Linked DNA regions of Homo sapiens: region 1 is linked to region 2. Evidence: fine-mapped expression QTL. Tissue or cell type: fibroblasts. Region 2 holds a variant in brackets; the other region holds the start of a gene. All regions are shown on one strand. Distances are from middle to middle.

Region 1 (4,394 bases), 110 kb before region 2:
AAAAGGCACTGTTCCAGGTAAATAGAAAGAAAGCAGCAAAAAGTAATCTAAATGTGGAAGAGGCAGAAGATATAATAAGCATACAAAATGAAACTTAACGCACAGCAGTCTAGGGACATTTCAGAGAGCAGCCAGCCATCCTACCTAGGTTGCCTTCAGCAACCCCTGAAGGCATTAATGTACTAGGATTAGCTGAAATAATTAATATTCACAATGATGACCTCCAAAGTAAAAAGGCAAGAAAGACATTTTTAAGAGACTTCCAATGTACGTGGCTGAAATTTTTTAAATCTGATGCCTAAAGAGTGACTGTATTTCACAAACATTATTCAAATTTTTATTGGACGTTTACCCTATCTGAGGCTAGATAGTTGGAAAACACAAAGAAATCTAATACACCATGTCTGTTCTCAAACATTTTACCATTCAGTACATTAGACATGGTAGAGGCAGAATGACACAGATAAGAAATAGAAATTCAAGTAATAAATTATGAGAGCACAGACAAAATTAGGAATAATTGTCCCTGAGGAAAACCAAGGATGTCTTCATGGCACAGGCCACTGAAAAATGAGAGTTCTGATAGGTACAGAATGGGGAGCAAAGTGTTAAGGGAAAAACGAAATCTGGGCAAAAGCACTGAGCATGAAAATACAGGTTGGCTGAAAGAAGAGAGGTAGGGAACGGGTACATTAGGAGTTGGGGGTGAAAGTAGTAAAAGTAAAGGCTGTAAAGCTATTTCAGGACCTTTCATGAAGGGATCTGAATGATATTCAAATTCATTTGAGTTTTATTGAACAAGAGAGTTCGCCAAAAAACTGGTGCTTATGCAGCACACCTGATCCTCAAATAATGCTGAATAATGGCCAAAAATAAAAGATTCAGAGTTAAATGCAAATTATTACTCAAATTCCTGAAATAAAAAGTCTTGACATGAATTAATAAGCGAAAAGAACCTAACCCAAGAGTAGAAAGTAGCTTCTGAGCTTGTTTCTTAAATAATGAAATATTACCCAATTTATTGACTGAGAACTGAAAATAATTTAGGATAATCTGTTGTGTCCTTTGATTGTCTTCCATGCAAGTCAGAGTATTTCCTAAACATATTATTTAGCAGTGCCTCATATCACCCTTGAAAGGCAAGAGACAGACTACAGTATTATTACCCCCTTTTTATCACAGGGAAACTGAGGAACAAGAAGACAAAATTACAGTATGGTCACAAAAGCCATCATATTTTCTAGGACTTTAATTAAAGGCTCCAAGCCTACATTTCATCTTTTATTCTTCGCACCATCTGAATACTAGAATTATCTTTTACTATCGTCTTAACTGGAAAAAATAAAAATATCTAAACTTTAACATCATTTTCTCAATTTGGTACTGTCACAAAAAAAAAAAAAAAACAGTTTTAAAAGTCTGCCCTTGAAATGATATTTGCAAGAACAGCAAGGTGTAAGCAGTAACCCAACCTCCAAAAAATACAGTTGTAAATCTTACAGCTGTAATATAGTTGTAAATCTTAAGACAGGTCAGGAATCCTAGACCCAGCCTTTACTTTGAACATCTGGCAGGCCTCAGGGAAATAATGGAGATTCGTGTCTGTAAACAGTCTTTGCAGATGCTCTGATGAAAAGGTGCCCTAAGAGGCCCAGAACAGTGGTATCACTGCACCCACTACTGCAAACATGAAATCCTCCTCTGTCCCTCCCTGCATTGCACCACGAGACTCGTGGCACACACGGAGGCCTGTGCAAGAACCTCTCGACGATTCCTTTAAAATGTGGTAATATAAGGACGCCTTTGGTGCTGGGCCTCCGTAAACACTGAGGATACCGGATGTGGCCAGGCACACCTCAAAGTCTTGGCTCTCCAAAACCAGGGCCTGGTCGAGAGTTTTATTGGACACCGAGTTCCTGCGAATATCTCACTTTTCACACAGGCACTGCCAATCCCTACCCTCCAGTACCCTTCCTCAGCCTCCTGCCCCACTCTCGCCGCGAGTGTGGGCGTCCCAAAGAGCTAAGGAGGGTAAGGTTGGTTAGAGCGCAGGGGCCAAGGCCGCGGCAGCGAGGCCGTCCAGCGCGGGCTAGGATCCCGCCAGCCCAGCCCTGGAGCCCGGCCGCCTGGCCCCAGCCCTGGCCCGGGCCAACGCGCCGCCGCCACCGCCTATCAGCGGAGCGCAGGGGCGGGGTGCTGTCCGGACTAGGCTGCCGGGCCGGCGGGCGGGGGCGGGCGGGGACGGGCGGGGGACCGACCTCTGCGCAGCCCAGGCCGCCGCGCGCACACACCGGGCCCGGCTCCTGAGGGCGCCAGCGCGGCCCCGGGGAGCGCGAGGAGCCGGCGAAGCGCGCGGCCTGCCGTTGGCGGCCTGGTCCGCAGCGCCCTGCGCCCACCCGCCCCGGACGTGGGGCCCAAGCCCCCGTGAAGATGGTGTCCTGGATGATCTCCAGAGCCGTGGTGTAAGTGCCTCTCACTGCGCCCTGCAGCCGGCGCGAGGCCCAGGGGAGCTGTGGGAAGGGGAAGGAGCCGAGAGGAAAGGGAAGGCCTGGGCCTGGGCGGGGACGGGGTAGCCCGGCCTCGGGCCTGCCGAGGGTCTGGGGGAGCCCTCGGCTTCCTCACCTTGGTCCACGTCGCTGCGGAGCTCCCTGCGACGGCCGAGGGCCTAGCTGCGGCGACTGCGGCTGCGACGGCGGCGGCGGCTGTGGCGCTGCTCGGCTGCGTGCGGTGCGGCGCGGCGCCCCTGCTCCGGCGGCGCTGGGTGGGCAGGCGCTCAGGGCAGGCGGCGCGCGCTCCCCGCTCCTGCTCCCCGCGCAGCGCGGCACCGCCCTGCGGGCCCGGGAGCGGCGCGCCTCGCAGCTGCTCCCTGCGCAGGCTCCGCAGACGCCGAGCGCGGGAGGCTCCGCGATCCTCCCGAGGATGCGACGGCAGTGCCGAGCCTTTGTATCCCGCGGCTGATGCGTTGCGGTGTCTCTCTTGGCGGCTGATTGCCATTCGGTCACGTGTGGTAGGAGGAGAGATTTGTCTAAAAACCGGAGACCGCTCCCAGCCCAGGATCCCTGGGAAGGGTCCTAGTTTTCCCAAGATTTGCAGCTTACCGAGAAAGGTGACACCGGCTGCTCGCCCAGATCCCCGAATTCGGCCCTGTCTCGGCGGAAATATTTGCTAAGTGATTGAAAGGCTGCAGGTGCCTGTTGCCTTTGTTCAAATTATGGGTTCATTTCATTGTTCTCCTACCAACAAGTGCTACAGGTCTGTAAGAAAAAGAAATTCCTTGAGTTGGTGGTGTTAATCGTGTAAATGTATTTGAATACAGTTTAAACTGATTTTCTCTCATCTCCATTTTACCCCTCTCCCCGATTAAAAAAAAAGTCACCAAGTAAACAATGACGTAGTTACAGCTAGGGCCTATGAATTCATTATTCACCTCTGTAGTAGTGTTATCTCAGAAGGTTTCATAAAGGTATATGAAAAAATGTTTATGTGAGGGGGCAGGCTTCTCTGATAAGCTTTAGAATTTAGGAAAAATAACATTACCAGACTTTTTGTTAAAAGGAGCTAGATTTTCTGAGTTTGGGGTTTATTTTGTTTGGAAGTGAATTACTAGCCCTATTTAATCAGATTTGCAGCACAGCATTCAAAATTTTTCATTTGATTAAATCGCAAAGTTTCTAGTTTTAAAGCCTCAGAGCTTCCTGTGTTCCCCTGTACGAAACTAAAAATCAAGATATAAACAAAAGGATACCACAGATGCCTTCAGATTGTTTTTCAGCCTTTTCCTGGCCTCTCTTTTGAGTCTGTCATTTATCTAATTCAGGCATACCTTTCTTGACCTAGTAGATGTCTATCAACTGTTGTGTCCACACCTAGAAAATCAAGTGCCCTATTAAGAAGCTGTACTTTACAAAAAAAAAAAAAAAAGCCTCTGGATTTCTTTGACCAGTTCTTCAGCTGACAGAAAATTGTGAAGCACTTTTAGACTTTTGTTTTTCATAATTGCCAATGAATATGAATGTCTGTTCTAGGTGCTACCTATAACACAAAGGTCAGTAACACGTAGTTGATCATGGGAATTGACAGTTTGGGTGCACAGATATCTGCAGTACAGGTCCAAATGTCAACTCTTGTAAAAGTTACACCCACTCTAATACCCAGTGTTGGACAAGGAAGGGATATCTGGTTGGAGAATCAGAAAAGGCAAGGGAGATTACGTTTCAGATGGGCCTTAAAGAATAGGCCCAGTAGAGTGGCTCACACCTGTAATCCTAGCACTTTGGGAGGCCAAGGAGGGAAGATTGTTTGATCACAAGAGTTAGAGACCAGCCTGGGCAACATAGCGAGACCTTGTCTCCACAAAAAAAGAAAAATTTAATTAGCTAGTCACAGTAGCTCAC
Region 2 (4,394 bases):
CCATGTTGGCCAGGCTTGTCTCGAATTCCTGACCTTGTGATCCGCCCGCCTCAGCCTCCTAAAGTGCTGGGATTACAGGTGTGAGCCACGGTGCCCGGCCAACATATTTCAATATATATAGTGGATATATTAATATATACATTGGTATATATATTTTAAAAATAAGAGGTACCTATGTATTTATTTCTGGCTTATCTATAGTATAGATTCTGTATACACACAGATCACCCTGTGAGTCTTCCTAATACCTACAAAACAGGTAGAATTTTCTTCTTTTGTCTATGATCGTGGTCTGAAGGATGACTTTTCAGCAGCAGAAGGGACTGGAATGGAAGGTGTCCATAATTTTGGCTGGAAGAGAGAAGTGTGCCCTCTTGTGGGTCTCCTGTCATGTTCTCAGAAAGTTCCTCAGGATAGAGCTGTGGCCTTTGTGGTCAGGGCTCTAGTCCCATTTTACCTTCAGATGCCTCCTATGCAATTTTTTTCTCATCATCTTCCCTGAGAAATATTTCCCAAATAATAACACAGCTCCCTCATCTCCCTAAATTACCTCCCTCACACTCCACATCCAGTGGATCAGCCCTTCCTCTTAGGTCTAATTTTTTTTAAAACTTTTATAAGTTTAATATTGTCACTGTATGTTTACATATTCATTGGTACAATTTACATCATCTTCTCCATTTTTGCAAAGATAGCATGTACACAAAGATACATATTCAATAACTGAGAAACAAGTGAAACTTCTGATCTATACTTTCAGGTTTGTTCAATCATGATACTTCTGATAAGGATCATGGACATACCAGTTTTACCTCTCCCAGAATGACGTCGCCATTTTATCTTAAGAGTTTACTCTGGGTTTTATTGCAGAATACAAATTCCCTCAATCGCTTTTTTCTTGCAGGTTCCTTTTTCCATAATTTTTTTCTTTTAACCAGCCTTTCACCTCACCCAAAGGCCACAATGAAGTCGAAGAAACCTGTAGATGACAGCTTTCACAGTCTTTCTCTTGTCTTTTCATGTACTGAAGTATGTTAGAGATCTGACTGGCAGCTTCAGGACACTCGGAAGCAAGGGGGACACTCTATTAAGGATCGCTGAAGTATGCCCACATGTCAGGTTTCTCTCAGATGTGGTTAAGTCTGGAAGTGGAGGAAACAACTGGTGTCTAAATATGACTGAAACGTCCAGTGGACAATGCAGAAATAAGAGAGGCATTCTTGACACAGTTTCTGTATGCTGAAGATGCCAAAATATTCAAGAGCCATCGGATTCCTGAAGCTGCTCTCACTGCACCAGCAAAGGCAAAAGCAGCCATCCCTCTCAGCTCTAATTTATGGATATGGATGTATCCCAAACCCCATCCCTTCTTACTACCTCCTGCACTAGCAACTAGTCCAAACCACCATCATTTCTTGCCCAACCTGCTGCAATCACCTCTTAAGTATTTTCCCTGCTTCCACTCCTTCACCGTATATTTCATTCTCCACACAGCAGCCAAAGCGGTTTTTTTAAAAAATACAAATGAAATGTGCTCACTCTACTATTCAAAATCCTTTAGTAGTTTCTTTTCACACTTGGATAAAATCCACACTCCCTCACCACAACCTATATGACTGGACTCTTGCCTAATCTTCTCACCTCATCCTCTATCACTTTCTTCCCTGTTCATTCCTCTCCAGGAACTGGCCTTCTCACTGTTCCTCAGAAATATGAAGCGGACTACTGCTTTAGGGTCTTGCATTTGCTGTTTCCTCTGTTTTCAACCCCCAGACCGTCACATGGCTTTCTCTCTTACCTCACTCAG[G/GTC]TCTCTGCTCAAATGTTGCCTCAGAGAGGACTTCCCTCATCACCACCCCTAATATAAATGAAGCACCGTAGCCGTAGCCGTTCCCTAACCAATTGCCCTACTTTATTCACCTTCACATCTCTTATCAAATATCCTGTTTACCTGTTTACTTGATTATTGTTTGCTTTACCTCTAGAATGCATGTTCTATGAGTGTAGGGACTTGGTCAATCTTGTTCAACAAGGAACTTCCAGTCCAAAACTGTACCTGTCATAGAAAAGGCACCCAATAAATATGCAAATCAAACTACGGTCACTCAGTGACAGAGAAAGAATGAGAACAATTTAAATAGTGTGAGGAAGTGTGTTTACTATTTTGCTCAGTAAATGTATGCACTAGAACAAGTATGAGATGGGAGATGTGAATCTACTTTATCTCTTAGTTCCCCTGTGCTATTCACAGTATGATCAATGTGCCATGCTGGGTGTTTAAAGATGCTGACAGTTTGAACAGCATGGCCCTTACATGCAGAGAAGTTCCGTAATGAGTTTGAGTCCTGGATTCACCACGTTAGTGTCTGACCTTGGGGAAGTTACTTACGCTTTCAATGCCTCAGTTTCTTCATCCATGAAATGAGGCTAATAATAGTACTACCTCTATAGGATTGTTATAAGGATTAAATTAATAATATAAATATCTTAGAACAGTGCCTAGAACATAGTAAGCCATGTCTGAGTATTTTTAAAGCAAACCTATTTGGCTGTACTTGGTTCTCCCCTTTCTTGGGGACTTTATAACTTGAGTACTTATAAGATACTACTCTGCCCAGCACTTTGGGAGGCCGAGGTGGGTGGATCACGAGGTCAGGAGATTCAGACCATCCTGGCTAAAATGATGAAACCCCGTCTCTACTAAAACTACAAAAAAATTAGCCAGGTGTGGTGGCGGGCGCCTGTAGTCCCAGCTACTCGGGAGGCTGAGGCAGGAGAATGGCGTGAACCCAGGAGGCGGAGCTTGCAGTGAGCCAAGATCGCGCCACTGCACTCCAGCCTGGGCGATAGAGCGTGACTCCATCTAAAAAAAAAAAAGATGCTACTCTGAAGTGACTGGCATTGGAATTTTCATCATGCTTTTAGACCAGTAATTTTAGTTTTAGCACCAAGTACAATAATTATTTTATAACCATTGCTAGTCTAGCATTTTTGCTTAGCCATAAATTCCATTTAAGCCAAAATATCCCTAACTTTGCAAAAAACTGTACCTTCAGGGGACACCACCCAATTATAGTTGAAAAAAAGATGTTTCTTCCTTTTTAATTCTGTAGGCTTTTCTTGGCTGGCATTTCCATAACATAATATTGTTATTTGGTAGTTGAGTGTCAGTCAGCTCTACAGAAAAATAAATACCAGTGATCTTGCTAAACCTGTGTACCAAATCATTCCTGAACTAGGGGAGTGGGCCAGATAACCTTTGGAAGGCTTTTTAGCTCTGTTTTTCTGTGGTTTTCGTAAAATGAAAATAGCTCAGAAATTAGAGGTTCTAGATTTAGCACTATGTGAACTGGGCCGGGATGCTTTGTGAATCATGGACAATTGAAATAGTTTAAACTCAGCTTATTTGGAACAGATTAGGTCCATATTCGGGTTGAACAAGAATGAAACCTGTTTGAACTGTGGACAGGCTGTCAGCACCCTTCTAGGCTCAGCTTTTCACTTCTCTTTCTAGGGCCTTGACTCGTTCATATATAACTGTATGAATGCCTCTTTAGAAAGGACTGCAAACACCTCCAACTAGTGTTTGTGAAACCTCCTTGAGGTATTCTACATATGATTCAATAATAAACACCTTCTGCAGTCTTTACCTTAGTTATGGTCCCATAAGTCATGCATTTATTCATCCAGTAAATATTCCCTGAGGGCTTAATATGTGCTAGGAATTGTGCTAGTACTAGCCACTTAGTTGTCCAAGTTAGAAACTAGGAGTTGGGCCAGGCACAGTAGCTCACGCCTGTAATCCCAGCACTTTGGGAGGCCGAGGTGGGAGGATCACCTGAGGTCAGGAGTTCGAGACCAGCCTGGCCAACATGGTGAAACCCCGTCTCTAGTAAAATTACAAAAATTAGCTGGGTGTGGTGGTACATACCTGTAATCCTAGCTACTCGGGAGGCTGAGGCAGGAGAATCGCTTAAACCTGGGAGGCAGAGGCTGCAGTGAGCCAAGATCGTGCCACTGTACTCCAGCCTGGGCAACAGAGTGACTCCGTCTCAAAAAAAAGAAAAGAAAAAAGAAAAGAAAGAAAAAGAAACCTAGGCGTCGTCTTAAATATACCCCCCTCATTCACTCCCCACATTAGGTCAGCCACCAAACTGGTGCCAATACTACCTTCCAAATATCTCTTGAAGTTTTGTTCTCCTCTTCACTCGCTCCTGGTGCCACTATGTTGGTAAAAGTGGTGTAAGCCCAGCTACTGTAGAAAGCAGGGCACAAAGCAGTCTGCTAAGGAGGGGGAAGAGGAGGGGAAGATGGGACACAGTGAGATGCACTGTTATACTGTTTACTGTTGTGCAGTCATACAACAGGTCACTCAGCAGGCATGGGACGTCCCTGGA

What was found.
Region 1: it holds the start of REEP3, and the variant in region 2 is fine-mapped to the expression of REEP3 in fibroblasts (GTEx, PIP 0.94).

The regions. Positions count from the first base shown.
Region 1 is chr10:63,519,116-63,523,509 of GRCh38, forward strand. REEP3 (receptor accessory protein 3) reads left to right here and starts at 2,286. Exons shown (of 8, transcript NM_001001330.3): 1 at 2,286-2,462. The coding sequence starts at 2,431. It also overlaps a transcript of JMJD1C not described here. RefSeq lists an enhancer at 1,482-1,531 and a silencer at 1,922-2,971.
Region 2 is chr10:63,633,510-63,637,903 of GRCh38, forward strand. It overlaps the pseudogene MRPL35P2. Among named protein-coding and RNA genes, the nearest start is that of REEP3, 110 kb to the left of the region's middle. RefSeq lists a silencer at 3,560-3,659. The variant G/GTC (reference allele first, on the strand shown) is at 1,808.